Regions from separate parts of the Homo sapiens genome. Here region 1 is linked to region 2. The links come from fine-mapping of genetic effects on gene expression. A gene starts in region 2. The other region holds a variant in brackets. All regions are shown on one strand. Distances are between the middles of the regions.

Region 1 (8,335 bases), 35 kb before region 2:
GGTCTTGGACTTTTTTTCATTGGTAGGCTATTCATTATTGCCTCAATTTCAGAGCCTGTTATTGGTCTATTCAGGGATTCAACTTCTTCCTGGTTTAGTCTTGGGAGGGTATATGTGTCGAGGAATTTATCCATTTCTTCTAGATTTTCAAGTTTATTTGCATAGAGGTGTTTATAGTATTCTCTGATGGTAGTTTGTATTTCTGCGGGATCAGTGGTGATATCCCCTTTATCATTTTTTTACTGTGTCTATTTGATTCTTCTCTCTTTTCTTCTTTATTAGTCTTGCTAGCAGTCTATCAATTTTGTTGATCTTTTCAAAAAACCAGCTCCTGGATTCATTGATTTTTTGAAAGGTTTTTTGTGTCTCTATCTCCTTCAGTTCTGCTCTGATCTTAGTTATTTCTTGCCTTCTGCTAGCTTTTGAATGTGTTTGCTCTTGCTTCTCTAGTTCTTTTAATTGTGATGTTAGGGTATCAATTTTAGATCTTTCCTGCTTTCTCTTGTGGGCATTTAGTGCAATAAATTTCCCTCTACACACTGCTTTAAATGTGTCCCAGAGATTCTGGTATGTTGTGTCTTTGTTGTCATTGGTTTCAAAGAACATCTTTATTTCTGCCGTCATTTCGTTATGTACCCAGTAGTCATTCAGGAGCAGGTTGTTCAGTTTCCATGTAGTTGAGTGGTTTTGAGTGAGTTTCTTAATCCTGAGTTCTAGTTTGATTGCACTGTGTTCTGAGAGACAGTTTGTTATAATTTCTGTTCTTTTACATTTGCTGAGGAGTGCTTTACTTCCAACTATGTGGTCAATTTTGGAATAAGTGCGAGATGGTGCTGAGAAGAATGTATATTCTGCTGATTTGGGGTGGAGAGTTCTGTAGATGTCTATTAAGTCCACTTGGTGCAGAGCTGAGTTCAATTCCTGGATATCCTTGTTAACGTTCTGTCTCATTGATCTGTCTAATGTTGACAGTGGGGTGTTAAAGTCTCCCATTATTATTGTGTGGGAGTCTAAGTCTCTTTGTAAGTCTCTAAGGACTTGCTTTATGAATCTGGGTGCTCCTGTATTGGGTGCATATATATTTAGGATAGTTAGCTCTTCTTGTTGAATTGATCCCTTTACCATTATGTAATGGCCTTCTTTGTCTCTTTTGATCTTTGTTGGTTTAAAGCCTGTTTTATCAGAGACTAGGATTGCAACCCCTGCTTCTTTTTTTTTTGTTTGTTTTCCATTTGCTTGGTAGATCTTCCTCCAACCCTTTATTTTGAGCCTATGAGAGATTTTGTCACCACCAGGCCTACCTTACAAGAGCTCCTGAAGGAAGCACTAAACATGGAAAGGAACAACCAGTACCAGCCACTGCAAAAACATGCCAAATTGTAAAGACCATGGATGCTAGGAAGAAACTGCATCAACTAATGAGCGAAATAACCAGCTAACATCATAACGACAGGATCAAATTCACACATAACAATATTAACCTTAAATGTAATTGGGCTAAATGCTCCAATTAAGAGACACAGACTGGCAAATTGGATAAAGAGTCAAGACCCATCAGTGTGCTGTATTCAGGAGACCCATCTCACATGCAGAGACACACATAGCCTCTTACACTGTTCTAATTCTTTACTTAAATTTGGATAAAGATTTAAAGGAGAGGTTGGTTCAGCTCCCCCATGGTCTCCAGGTCTTTCTTCCTCTAACCTTCCTCCTGCCCCTTGATCTTCCTGTCCCCTATTTTTTGAGACGTATGGAAGGGGCAAGCATGGTAGGGGGTCCCAGGGCTTTTCCCTGGGTGAGGACTTTTTACTAGGCTCTTTCTCTTCTTTGAGGGGGAACATGGGGGCTAATTCCATGATCCATCAGAGAGTGTAACCTATCTCTTCTCGTCAGTATGGGGTTTTATCATTCACATAGAGAATTAAAACTTGGCAAACCCAGTCCTCGTCTGATCCAAAGTTAGGCCAAAAGACTGAAGGCTTACAAATGGGGTCCTTGGGACAGATAAAACAGCAATACTTTTTCATCTTTTGCTTTTCCTTGTCCCTGGTTCGAGAGTTGTCCCTCCAAACCTGCAGCACTCTCCCCAAAAGACTATCCAGGGAATGTCAGAGAGAGTCTTTGATTCCCTCTTTCCTTTGTCCCCTTGGCCTAGAATTTCTGTTTCCCATTTTTGGTCAGTCTCTGTGTCTGAGTTTCCTTGTGTACATAACCCCCCTCTATTGGAGGTTTCTTGCACACCCCGAAAATCACTTCATCCATCTCCGGCCATTTCCCTTGCAGGAGAATGGAACTGCGGATTGGGACTCTGCACTCGCTTCGTATCTAAGATACCTCTCAGTCACACACACTTGACCTCCGAAAATGCCCAACCACCAAGGCAGTACTTATAGTCCAATTTTCTACCTTGGCTCATGCACAAGTTTGCCTGGTTGCCACAGTGCCTGCTTTTCTCCCTCTGTCACCTCCACTGCCTCCTGAGTAACAGTCTCGAGTTTGTCTATGGCTTCTGCAGGGAGCCGGGGCGCCCGGACAGAGCAGGCCACCTAAATCAGGTGGGACACATCTCCCCTCTCACCCAGAGTCTTACTCCACGCAGGCACAGAGATCCCAGATGGGCCTCCAGGTTTGTGAGAAACATACATTCACCCATCCAAACCCGAAGAATGGACTCAGAGACACGAAGAACAGCGGAAGCGAGACTTTTAATGGTGGACTTGCAAGATCAGGTGTCTGGTAGGCAGGCACACCCAGGGCAGTTACAACAGGTAATTTATCTCCTAGCACACAAATCCTCCCCCCAGTTCCTCATTGGTTGAGTACTATGGGGTTACAATCTTCCTAGACATCGCCTAAGTTTCATTATCTCCCTTCTAAGGTTATGCCCTGGTCTCCTCCCCTGCTTAAGTTTCAATTTCCCAATAACAAAACTTTCTTCCCTTTTATGGGCTGACCCCTCTTCTACATTCTATTCACTTATGGTGACCTTCTAGGTGCATGAGACATGTGGTTTGTTACGTTTGCAGCCTGGCTGCCAGTACTTAGATTTATCATGCCTTGAAAATGGATCATTTAAAATGTTTTCTCACATTGATGATCCATGTGGCCCCTCCTAATGCCATCATCCTCTAGCTGTGCCCCCTACTCACCCACCTGCTGATTTTGTATATGGTATTTTGAGTCTCCATAAGCTAAAATGGGTGTATTGTCACCTCCATTTCTTCAACTGTAAAATGGGAATAATTATTCCTACTGCACCATTCCTATATTGGCATGAGGAGAAAAAGGGAATAATGTGTGTGAAATTGCCTTACACATAGTACATGCTTAATCAACATTTGTCTTCCTTAAAAAACCATCATAATGGGTTAGCATGGAAAAAATGTTAAAGAAAATTGTAATTCACTGACAAGCATCTTCATTCAACAGCCAGTGGGACAGAGTGGCCTTCAAGCCAAGAGAATTACATGATGTCACAACTTTCCAAGAGGCGGTGATGGATCTCAGGCTTCACAGGCAGCCTAGTGAAGTGGAAAGAACTTGGGCAGGGAGATAGACAGACCTGCTTTTAGGCCTCTGACCCATCCTTAATAGAAATATTTCTGTCCAAAAAAAAAAAAAGATTACACTGGAATAATCATTTCAACAGCTCCAGTCACTACAAAGTGGAAGATTACAGAGCCTTGATGCCAAGTCTGAGCTGAGCTCAAACCCTTCCTTTGCCATTTGTTATTGAGTGACCTAATTGTCAGTAGGGATGGTAATAATTCAAATTATTATTAGGAGGCTGTGAATTTCAAGTAAGATAAAGTATTTAGTAAGTGCTTAATAATATTAGCTATTGTTGTGTTCTAAGAGCTACAGATGGGTCCCAGTCAGTGTATTAGTGTATTGCCTGCCTAGGCACAACTGTATTCTTGTTTAAGATTTCCATGAAAAATCACACAACATTGTCAAACCCCATCACGGTTCCATGAGAAAGATGTTTAGTAGTCTCTGCTACCCTCCCTCCATACACACACACACACACACACGCATCCCATTTTACATGTAAAAAAGTTGACATTGGACATTTGATCAAGATAAAGATCTGTTATACTCTGAAGGATGGGGATATAAAGTTGTGTTTTTCCAGCATCTCCTTCCTTCATCCCAAGAACATACTGCACTCCCAAGAATATACCCATCAAAAGAGGTTAAAATGACTGTTTGAAGTGGGAAAGGCATCATCCTACCCCTGAGCCTCTATAAAGAAAGAAATCTTGTAAAACAGAATCTGTCCCATGGTTAAGCCAAGACCATCTCTTATTGATTAAAGGTCAACAAGAATGTAGATTAGTTAAGCTATGAAGAGACCTAACATTCTGAAATGCCAAGTCCTGAGGCTAAAAGTCTGAAACCAATCATTCAAAATCCAAGGAGATGCAACCCTGGAGGAATGATCTGAAGTAAGCTATTTCACAGAATCTGAAATCCGGATTGCCAGTATCTCGCTAAGGCACTCCCACACAGAGGGCTGAAACTGAGCTCCAAACTCTGATAGTGCTTAAAATAGAGTCCTGCAAACATACACAGAGCTCATGAGGCTGTAAGGCAGACCCCTGAATTCCAAAGTTGCTGGGAGTATTGGGACAATCAGGCTTGACAAGAGACACTTACAGACAAGAAGACAGAAGGAGACAGAGGCACCCACATGATAAAGAGAGTCAAGCAGCAGCTACCCACTTCTGGTTCCTTAAACGTTCTAAATAAACAGTGGAAGCTTAGTCTTCTCTTGGTTAATCTTTCATCTCTCCAGAGAATGTGGCTTTAGTTACTACCCAGTTTTCTTATCAGAGGAAACCAATGTATACAAAGGCAATGGAGTTAGTCCAGAAGCCTTTATCTAATTATATTATCAGAAGTCAATGGTTGGCCTTAAACAGTGCCCACTTCTCTAGAGTCTAAGACAGGGAGGTGAGAACAAGCCAGGCCAGAGCTCAGGATAGAGTTGAGTAGGGGGCAAAATTTCAGCTCCAGTCTGGACTCAGTGGCTCACGCCTGTAATCCCAGCAATTTGGGAGGCCGAGGTGGGTGGATCACTTGAAGTCAGAAGTTTGAGACCAGCCTGGCCAACATGGTGAAACCCCATCTCTGCTGAAAATACAAAAATTAGCCAGGCATGGTGGCGGGTGCCTGTAGTCCCAGCTACTCAGGAGGCTGAGGCATGAGAATCACTTGAACCCAGAAGGTGGAGGTTGCAGTGAGCCGAGATAGCACCACTACATTCCAGCCTGGGTGACAGAGCAAGATAACATCTCAAAAAAAAAAAAAA[T/AAAAT]TCAGTTCCAGGGCTGGGCCCCTGCAGAAGGCAGCTGTGAAGGTTCAAGGTGCTTAGTTCAAAAAGTGAAGCAAACTCAAGGGTACAAGCAGTAAATGTCTGTAAAGCTGCTCTGGCTGGGATGAGTGCACAGCAGCAGAATGTCTAAGCAGCCAGCCAGAGCTCAGCAGCCAAATAAATGGAAGTCAGTTACGGAAAACATGTCCAGATGCGGCAAGACCTCACCAGCAAGTGGGGAGGGGGAGAAACAGATAACTGGCTCGATGTTCTTGTTTGTCACTATCTTCTCATTGCCTAGCCTGGATGCTGGCATATAATAGATGCTTAATAAACATTTGTAGAATTAATAAATGCAAGACAAATCCCCTATAGACACCAAGTGTCTGCTTACTTTCCCGTCTCCACCATCCTGCCCATCACTGCCTTTCTTGCAGCTTCCGAGGGTAGTCTCATTAAATCACTAATTGTAATTAGATCATAAGAACAAAAGTACAGATACTGTCAGGTTGTAAAGGACAAGAAAATTAGGAGAAATCTAATGGGAAACATAAAGCTTGGAGATGGAGTTGCTGATTGAGCTCCAGGAGCAGCGCCTGGGAGGGGAAGACTGGCTGTTGCGGGAGGGTTGGAGAGAGCAGGGGAGCCTACTGGGGCATGGAGAGGAGAAGAGGGGGCTGGACCTTGCTTCCTGGTCCAGCCAGCCACAGGGAACTAACACCTAATGAAAGCAGCCTTGCAAGCTCACAATAGGATGTGGTCTGACTCATCACCTCCCCACTGTAACTCTGGTGGATGGGCTTCTCACACTGCCTATGGAAGAGGAAAGCATTACAGAGGCCACATGGGATGGGGCTGGCCTGTGGCTCCGTTCTGGAAACAGCAACCAGACTGCCTGCCCAAAAGGTGCTGCTAAGACCATGGTGAAAGTCAATAATGATAAGAAGCCACCATCACTCTGACAGAAGACTCATGACATGAGAGCCAGATGTTCCACAGGACAAGGATCTCCTTCCCTGAGTTGGAGGCAGGCAAGGAGCTGAAGTTCTGTCAATCCAGCCAGCTTGGGCTGAGCCACGGAGCAAACCAGGTCTGTTTCTAATCTTGTCATCTACTTTGCCCACATTCAGGTGTGGCCTCAGGCGTCCTCTTTACTCTTGGCTTCTAGGAGGCGCCCCTTTGGGCCACATGTTGAGACTCAACCCTCAGAGAGGATCTGCTCCTGGTTGTGTTGCTGCAGATCCCTGGATCTTGCAGCGGGGAGAGTGTTGACGTTGCCTGGAAGAGGAAACAATGTAAGAGACTGGCTATCAAACTACATTCTGTGAAGCTGGGGGACTCCGCAGAGGTGTTCGGGAACAGAGGGGAGTTGAGCAGGCAGGGGTTCTGCACACCCCCACTCCCACTTCAAATCAGAGCAGCTTCACTTTTCTCCATATTACATTACAATTCTACATAAGGTTTTGTTTCAAGAAAATGTTTTGAACTAGCCTGGGCAAAAATAGTGAGACCCCCTGTCTCTATAAATTTTTTTTTTTTAATTAGCCAAGCATGGTGGTGCATACCTATACTCTCAGCTATCAGGACACTGAGGCAGAAGGATCGCTTGAGCCCAGGAGTTCAAGGGTGCAGTGAGCTATGATCACACCACTGCACTTCATCCTGGCCAACAGAGAGAGACCCTGTCTCCAAGAAAGAAGGAGAAATAGAGAGAGAGAGAGAAAGAGAGAGAGAGAAAGAGAGAGAGAGAGAGAGAGCTGGGCACAATGGCTCATGCCTGTAATCCCAGCTTTTTGGGAGGCCGAGGTGGACAGATCCCTTGAGCCCAGGAGTTTGAGACCAGCCTGGGCAATACAGTGAGACCCTGTCTCTACTTAAAAAAAAAAAAATAGCTGGGTATGGTGGCATGTACCTGTGATGCCAGCTACTTGAGAGGCTGAGGCGAGAGAACCAATTGAACTTGGAAGGCCGAGACAGCAGTGAGCCATGATCAGCCACTGCACTCCAGCCTGGGTGACAGAGCAAGACCCTATCTCAAAAAAAAAAAAAAAGATATTAGAAAAACAGGGAGAAGAAAGAGAAAGAAAGAAAGAAAGAAAGAGAGGGAAGGAAGGAAGGAAGGAAGGAACGAAGGAGGAATGAAGGAAGGAACGAAGGAAGGAAGGAAGATCCTGAAACTAAAAAACGTTGATATCTGTGGCAGATTCAGTTATTGACCCCAGATCTTCCTTCCCCTATAGTGGAATTATACATCCACATTCATACCATGGCTTCACGATGGACAGAGTGTATTTCCTGAGCTCTTGACTTTGGGCCTACCTATTCTTTGACCAACAGGATGGTTGCACAACACTAGCAAAGACGTGAAAAGTGTTTGTGTGGGCCTACACTCGAGTTCTTGCCTTTTCCCATGAGAAAAATTTGCCTCAGCTACAAGTCCAAGGAGGATGAGAGGCATGTGGAGCAAACCTGAGCCCAACCCACTGCTTGGAGTCAGGCTGAGTTGAGCCCGTTACACATCAGCCAAACCCTACCAATGCACAGGTCAATAAGCCCAAAATAAACGCTTGTTGTAAAACATTCAAATTTCTTTTTTTCTTTCTTCTTCTTTTTTGTTCCATCTTGCCCTGTCGCCCAGACTGTGCAGTGCAGCGGTGCAATCACAGCTCACTGCAACCTCCACCTCCTGGCTCAAGTGATCCTCCCACCTCAGCCTCCCAAGTAGTGGAATTCTAGGTGCATGCCACCACACCCAGCTAATTTTTGCATTTTTTTGTAGAGATCACATCTTGCCGTGTTGCCCAGGCTGGTCTCGAACTCCTGAGCTCAAGCAATCGGTCCACCTGGTCTCCCAAAGTGCTGGGATTACAGGTGTGAGCCACCACACTCTGCCACCATTCAAATTTCAAAGTTGTCTGTATGCAGCAACATTAACTGACTACACAATGCCTTTTAAGGGCCCTTCCAGCACCTTTATTTAAACAAAGAATCTGTCCAAAAAGGAAAGAAAGAAGTTTACAAAAA
Region 2 (8,335 bases):
CTTTCTTCTTGGCTCAGGAAGCAGAGAAGGAGGTGACTCAGGATGTTGGGAGGCTTAAGGAACATTCTTAAACTCTGAGGTCTTTACAGGGAAGGACACCTGCAGGTACCATTTTAGAACCAAAAAGCTGAGTTAGAGTTGCCCAACACTGAACTACGTGTTCCTCTCTTTTTCTTTAGTTAGAGCCCACCCCTCCTCCTTGCCCTCCATAGGCTCACTCACTTAGAATCATAGCGCTGCAGCAGGTCTCGCGGCCGGCAGTAGCGCTGCCTGCAAACCAGCACCAAGGCTGCAAACGAAGCCAGAAAGATGGTGGCCAGCACACCTATGGCAACAATCACCACAGTCTCCATGCTTCCAGAGGGCTCCTGACTCAGTCCCGGTCACATCCTCCTCATGGGCTAAAGCTTGAGAGAACATGAAGTCAGAGCAGATCTGGTCAAGAAGCCACGAAAGAGAGTGGGACAGGTGGGTCTTACCTGCTGGAAGTGGCAAATTGGGGAAGAGGATGGCAGGTGCTAGGTTCCTCCACGACACCTGCAGAGACCTGAGGGCCTGAAGAGAACCAAGGTAAAATTTATGCCATGCCCCAAATTTGCCTTTTCCTTTCTCAGAAGAATTTGCTCCCCAGTTGGACTAAAATTTTTTGTTTGTTTGTTTGTGTTTGTTTGTTTTTTTAAGATGGAGTCTAGCTCTGTCACCCAGGCTGGAGTGCAATGGCACGATCTCAGCTCACTGCAACCTCTGCCTCCTGGGTTCAAGCGATTCTCCTGCCTCAGCCTCCCAAGTAGCTAGGATTACAGGTGCCTGACACCACACCCGGCTAATTTTTTGTATTTTTAGTAGAGACGGGGTTTCACCATGTTGGCCAGGCTGGTCTTGAACTCCTGACCTCAAGTAATGCACCCACCTCGGGCCTCCCAAAGTGCTGGGATTACACGCGTGAGACACCGAGCCCGGCCTTAAAATAGCTTTTTAAACCCTAGACAAAAGGAAACATTTTAACTAGCAGTTGTTTTCGCAGCCATAAAAACATGCACAAAAGAACACCCATTAAAGAGAGGAAAGATGAAACTGTATTTACTGAGGATCTACTCTGCACCAGGTTCTTTGTTAACTTTTCCAACAACAATCTTATGAAGTGGACATATTAGTAATCCCATTTTACAGTTGAGGAAACTGAGGTTCAGGGAGGTTACAGAATTTTTCCAATATGCAGTCAGGAGATGGAAAGCCATCCACTTACACTGAGATGGACATTCACTCTACTTTTCCTTTCTAAGGAAGAAAGAAGACTGTAAAGGTTCTGGAAAGAGTTCTAATTGCCAGTTTCAGTGTTGGAAACTTAGAACTGGCATTAAAGTGTCCATTGCCTCTTGCCAGTTTTCACTCAGGAGACTGTTTCACATCTATTTCTTTTTCTCATAGAATTCTTTTATTTGTGTACAAAAGAAGAATGAAAGAAGTCCGTGCATTTGTATATACTAGTGCACAGAATTTTTTTAGTATGAACACATCGATAGGCACAAACACACATAAAATGTAACTTGATAACAGTAGCTGCCTCTGGAGAGAGGAACTGAAGAACGGGGTCTTTCACACCTATTTTAAACTCATAAGCCAGAAGAACAAGGGCATCTCACAGAAGTACATATTCACTGTTATTTCATTGTAGGCCTCCTGCTTGTCTCTCTTTGTGCAAGCATTCTCCCCTCTCTGGGCTTTAATTTCCCCACGTGAAAAAAAGACACTCTGACTTAGGAGTCCTTAGAATACCAGGAGGGTGCTTTTCCTCTATTTGCACTTAATTCTATCCTCCATGTCTCGGAGGGTCCAAACGCTCTCGGTCACCATTCACTAAGTATTTATTGATCATCTACTATGCATCATGCACTGGAGATTGGAGATAGATAGGACAGAGACCCTGATCTTAAGGAGTTGGTGGGAGAGGCAGACAGGTGACAAACCACTTCAACTCCATGTGCCTGTGCTTCCTGCAGAAGAACACAGAAAAGAGAGTAACTGTGCTTGCATGACACTTTCTGGGAACTGACACTTTCACAGGAGTGGTGAGGCTAGAGCTGGGTTTTGAAGGATGAGCAGGAGTTTGCCAGGTAGACAAGGTTGGGACATGCCTGGCTTAAAGTGCCAAGGAAGCCTTTCTCAAAGGGCTCACAGAGCTGCTCTCCCATCTCGAGCTCACTGGACCACAAGAAGGAGAAGGCTGGCATCTGCCTCTTCTGTGTGTGTCGCTGATTTTGTGAGAGGTAGGTGGGGGAGGGGGGTAATTCTCAGGGTCCGCCTCTGTTTCTCTACGTGTGTGTTTCTCTTTACTGTCCTTTTAACCACCTCCTTTTGGCCTTTGTGTTTTCTGCCTCCTCTTATGTCTGCCTTTATCTCTGTTTCTCTTTCCAGGCATCTTTCCCTCTGCTGCTCCCGTCTCCCGCTTCTCAGTGTCTCTCCTTCCCCTCCCCCGGTCCCCAGGCCTCCAAGACCACCCACTTGGTTTCCTCTCTCTTCCTGTGCGTTCTGAGTGTTTCTCTGATCGTGTTTCTCTGGGTGTGTGTGAGCTGAGTGTGCTTCTAAGTGTGTTTCTCCGTGTGTGTTTGTGTTAGTGTGCGTGAGCTGTTTTTCTGTTTCTGTGTGTGTGAGCTGTTTCTCAGAGTGTGCTTCTGAGTGTGTGAGCTGTGTTTCTCAGAGTGTGTTTCTGAGTGTTAGCTATGTTTCTGAGTGTTTTCTGAATGTGCTTGTGTGAGCTGTTTATCTTGAGTGTGCTTGAGTGGGTGTGAGCTGATTGTGTTTCTCAGAGTATGTTTCTGAGTGTGTGTGAGCTGAATGTTTCTCCGAGTGTGCTTGTGTGTGTGAGCTGAGTGTGCTTCTGAGCGAGTGTGAACTGTTTCTCGGAGTGTGTTTCTGAGTGTGTGTGAACTGAATGTTTGAGTGTGCTTCTGTGTGTGAGCTGAGTGTTTATCTTGTGTGCCTCTGAGTGCGTGTGTTTCTGAGTGTGTGTGAACTGAATGTTTCTGAGTGTGCTTCTGTGTGTGAGCTGAGTGTTTATCTTGTGTGCTTCTGAGTGCGTGTGTTTCTGAGTGTGTGTGAACTGAATGTTTCTTAGTGTGCTTGTGTGTGTGACCTGAGTGTTTATCTTAAGTGTGCTTCTCAGTGCGTGTGAGCTGAGTGTGTTTCTCGGAGCGTGTGTTCGTGGTCCTTCTCTGCAGTCTGCGTGGCGTTTCTTTGTGTTTTTCTTTCTCTATTCTTCCCTGCGTACTGAAGAGTAAGTTTTCCTGTTTTTCTCCGTCTCTTTCTCTCTCCCTTACTTTCCCCCTTCCCCTCCGGTTCCAGAACCACAAGGACAGAACAGACCCAAGACCCTACCCGCTTCCCCGTGCTCGTCCACCCAGGACGCCCACTCTGTCCCCGGGAGGGAGGGACCCCCAGCCCGCCCGGGACGCGCCGCACGGGCCCCGGAGCGCTCCGGGGCGCGGCTCCTACTCCTTTCCCCAACTTCGGGCGCGCGGCCCCGCGGCAAGAACAAAGCTGCGGCACCCGCCTCCCCTCTCCCCGGCAGCCGGGCCAGGCCCCGCGCCCCCGCGTCCCCTTCCCCGACTCGCCGCGGCCCGCCCGGCCCGGCGGGGCTCACCCACCTCAGGCTGTGGCTCCCGGGCGCATCCCGCGACTGCCCCGCCGATGGCAAAGTCCGGGCGCGGGCGCGGGCCTGCAGCGGAGCATGCCGGGAAGCGCCGCGGCCCTAGGAATCCAGCCTCGCGCCCCCGCGCCCCGGCCCCCGGCCCCCGGCCCGCGCCAAATCCCCGCCGCCAGGCGCCGCCGTCACCGCCAGGCCCCCCGGCGGCCGGGGCAGCTGGGAGGCGGGCCCTGGCGACCCAACACCCCTTCCTCGCGCCCCCGCGGTGGCCCGTCCGGGCGGCAGACGGAGAGGGGAGCGGAGGGTCCCTGCCTGCGCCCCGCCCCGGGCTGGCGGTCCCAGGCGGCGAGCGCGGATGGGTACCGCAGGGGGGCTGGCGGCGGAGCCAGTGTGCTCCGCCACGGACTGTCCCATTGAAACCCTGCCTCTGCCACTCACTAGCTATGGACAACTTAGTTCAGCCTTTGTGCCTCGGTCTGTAAAACGGGGCTGCTGCTTGTCAGCATCCTCAGAGTTGGTATTAGGAATGATGGGATGCAGGATGCATCGGACTGCCTGGCCCAGGGTAAAGAGTGAATCGAGGGTCGCTCTTATTTACAGCCTGACCCACGGGTCAGTGAGAAGCAGGCCCACCCCTGGCGACTGCCTAGCCAGGGGCAAGAGTACAAATGCAGAGCCCTTGCTAGTAGTCTTGCTGCTTCTATTCCCACACGACTCCATCCCATACATACTGAAGGGGGTCTACTGGTTCAGGCAAACACACACCCCCTACCCTGCCATCCTTCATTCTAACGATACTCAGGCCAGGCAGGGCAGGCTGCCCTGGGTGGATGGAAGTCAGACCTTGGAAGCAGGCTCAGGGCTGTTTACACAGGGATTTCCGGAGTCCAGGGTACCAGGAGCATGATCTAGAAGGGAACATACGCTCCAGCTGGAGTGGGCCAACTAAAGCACGGGGTTCAGGGCAGGATCCCAGTGGTCCAGGTCTGAGGTCAGTATCGGTGACAGTTAACAAAGGATACAGATTGGGTCCTAGGCCGCTTGACACAGGGTCTGCAAACTGGTACCCCCAAGGCCACATCCAGCCCACAGAGGTGGTTTTTTTGGTTCATACTTTTGTTGTTTTATTTTAATTTTTTTGAGACAGAGTCTCAGTCAGTCGCCCAGGCTGGAGTGCTGTGGCACAGTCTTGGCTGTTTACGGGTGGAGGGTGTCCAGGTTCTTGCCTTTATTTATTTATTTATTTATTTATTTATTTATTTTTTGAAACAGAGTCTGGCTCTGTTGCCCAGGCTGGAGTGCAATGGCACGATCTCAGCTCACTGCAACCTCTGCCTCCTGGGTTCAAGCGATTCTCCTGCCTCAGCCCCCCAAGTAGCTGGGATTACAGGTGTGCGCCACCACGTCCCACTAATTTTTTTTGTTATTTTTAGTAGAGACGGGGTTTCGCCACGTTGGCCGGGCTGGTCTGGAACTCCTGACCTCAGGTGATCCACCCACCTCAGCTTCCCAAAGTGCTGGGATTATAGGCATGAGCCACCGCACCCGGCCTGTTCTTGTCATTTTGAACAAAGAATTAGACAAAAGGCACAAGCAAAGCAAGTAAAGAAAGAATGAAGCAACAAAAGCAGAGATTTATTGAAAACAAAAGTGCATTCCACAAGGTGGGAGCAGGCCCCTGCATATGGGCTCAAGAGCCCCTGCTGTAGAATCTTCTGGGGTCCAAATACCTCCTAGAGGTTTCCCATTGGCCACTTGGCGTTCACCCCATGTAAATGAAGTGGTGCCACAATTAGTCTGATTGGTTGTGGAAAGCAACCAATCAGAGGCTGAAGTGAAGTTACAAAGGTTGCACTCCTATGCAAAAGAAGATTTGGCCCGCAATCAGTCTGATCGGTTACTTTCCACAACCAATCAGAGGCTAAAGTGAAGTTACAAAGTTACACTCCTATGCAAAAGAATATTTGGCCGCAATCAGTCTGACTGGTTGCTTTCCACAACCAATCAGAGGCTGAAGTGAAGTTACAAAGTTACACTTCTATGCAAACGCAGGATTGGTTGCGGAAAGGCAATCAGAGGTACTTTCAAAAGATTTTCCATCTGCCAAGCAGAAAGTGGGGAGTGGGGGTTGCAAAGGGAGTAGTCTCTGGTCCGTTTGTTACTTAGGTGCGGAAAGTTGGGGTTTTCCTTTTGATTTAGTTCTAGGAAGTCAGGTGAACCCTTAGGTTTCCTGCCTCCAGACCCTATTCTCCTGCCTCATCTCTCTCCTGAGAGACATGACCCCCATAAATCTTTATGGGATGCAGAGGAACTGTAACTGCTTTATGCCAACTTGGGGCGTAGTTCCTACCTACTGGAGATCATGGAACTCTTGCCCTACTCTGTCTAGTGGAGACAGTGTGGCATCCTGATGGCCAGGGGTGGTGTCTTCACTTGGAACTGACTGGAAACTTTGTCACATGATCATCTGAAGCTTGATGGTCTCTATGTGAAAGGAAATGAATATGGTTAAAAGATTTAACAGGAACTTCAGGGGGTGGATACTTATGCTGTCAGGAATGTTCATTATGGAGATGAATTGAAACATTCTGCTAATTACTACAAAGGAAGTGATTCCATAAGTTTGGAAGAAGGCAATAAAAAAATGGCCACTATTATCCAGAGCACTTCCACGTTTTATTAAGTACCTTATCTCCTGGCCTGATTTGGGGTTGCTGGGATTGGCCAAGACTCAGCTATTTTTACAGGCACATATTCCTAAGTTAGGTTACCGTTCATCCACAGAGACTCCAATATAGAAATACGGAGTCCTTCTCAGGCTATATTTAATTTGCTTTAACAATTTCCCCCTTTTGGTCATTTTCTCAATTTTGAGAGATTGACCAAACCTTTAGTCATTCATGTCACTACCACCATCATAAATGAACTTATTTGGTCTTGAAACCCACTGGGAAACAGTAAAACAACAGTGAGTTTTGTACAGTGGGAACAAGGACTGAGTAGAGGGTACCTCCTTATGGTGGAACATCCTGTTTGCAGGAGAAAAACAAAACCTGGTCTGTTTTAGGATCTATGTGTTTTGGTTTGTTTGGTTTGCTGGGGCCTAGCACATGATGTCAGTCCAAAACACTGGCCTCTCATAATTTTGTTAAAAAAATTCTCCCTTTTTGGTCAGGTTCTCACTTGGGTGAGAGTGTGACCAAAATTTAAGGCCTTAGCACCACACTCACTTGCCATCATTTTGGGTTTCCAGTCTCACCACATCATTCATAGGTTATGGTATCCTCCTGGTCATGCACTTCTTTCAGCTCTTGTCATTCCACTTGAAAAGAGACCATTTGACATTCTAGAGATGGCTGAATGCAAGCATTTAAAGCCTTTGAGATAATACAGCGCACCAGGGAGACTATTATTATGACTACTGGGAGGATAATACTAAGAGTTTGGAGCATACTTCATACCAAGGATCCCCATAAACCAAACCACCTAAAATTAAATCAAAGAATGTGCTAAAGAATCTACTCACTTAACTAAGAAATCTCTTCGTTAATCCCCTACAACTAAATCTCTATAATCTTCATTTGATGTATTTCTCCATAAGCCACAAGTGCCAGCAGCTGCACAGATACTTCTCTGTTCAGCCGATTCTATCGTAACCTTCACAAAAGAATTTAAAATCTGTTGTGTAACTATAGCCTTTACAGTAGATATTCTCAGAAGACCCAATCTTTGGGTTCTAGATTGTGAAGGGGTTGATTGTCCTCAGTGACCCATAAAAAGCTTTCTTTACCTGGTGAAAATACACTGTAGCATAATAATCTACTGTTATAACATCAGCCCTCTTGCATAGGAAAGCTTTTTTACAACCAGAAACATGCATTGAAAATGGCAATTGAAATGTTTAAATGGCCCATGAGGTAGCCAAATGTACTTGAAGATTTGATTGTCTTCCCAGGAATATGGATTTGACAAACCAAACATTGGTTATAAACTACTTTAGCAATGTATAAGTCAGCACACCAATATATATTTAATTTGGATTATTTTATCTTTTCCATGATGAGTCATGGAGTGCATAACCTTGAATAACAAAAGCTTTAAGGACTCAGGAAGGGCAAGGCTGCTGTCCTGGTTCTCCATGAGTCCATGCTTAACATCGGACTTACGTCATCTTGAATACCAGTTGTTTCTCCAGTTTAGCTGTATAGCACTGACAACTGATGGGTTATCATAGGTAATTTGACTTAGACCATGGAGTTCATTCAAATTGTATATCTAAACAATTTTAGTATCCGCTGATTTAGCATGCAAATCTGGCAAAGTATTTTCTTGGTACTCAACTAATTTTTGTTCCACTTGGGTTAACACTTTTATACAAAGAAATTTGGTCTCTCCCCCTCCCCCTCCCCCTCCCCCTCCCTCTCCCTCCACGGTCTCCCTCTGATGCCGAGCCAAAGCTGGACGGTACTGCTGCCATCTCGGCTCACTGCAACCTCCCTGCCTGATTCTCCTGCCTCAGCCTGCCGAGTGCCTGCGATTGCAGGCGCGCGCCGCCACGCCTGACTGGTTTTCGTTTTTTTTTGGTGGAGACGGGGTTTCGCTCTGTTGGCCGGGCTGGTCTCCAGCTCCTAACCGCGAGTGATCCGCCAGCCTCGGCCTCCCGAGGTGCCGGGATTGCAGATGGAGTCTCGT

What was found. PIP is the estimated chance that this variant, and not a neighbour inherited with it, causes the effect.
Region 1: its variant is the best candidate, but not a certain one, in a credible set for the expression of TMEM98 in subcutaneous fat (TwinsUK, PIP 0.69).

Annotation. Positions count from the first base shown.
Region 1 is chr17:32,958,805-32,967,139 of GRCh38, reverse strand. No RefSeq gene overlaps it. Among named protein-coding and RNA genes, the nearest start is that of SPACA3, 29 kb to the left of the region's middle. The variant T/AAAAT (reference allele first, on the strand shown) is at 5,315.
Region 2 is chr17:32,923,547-32,931,881 of GRCh38, reverse strand. It overlaps TMEM98 (transmembrane protein 98), which reads right to left and starts at 3,729. Exons shown (of 8, transcript NM_015544.3): 1 at 3,645-3,729; 2 at 480-555; 3 at 223-407. The coding sequence starts at 353.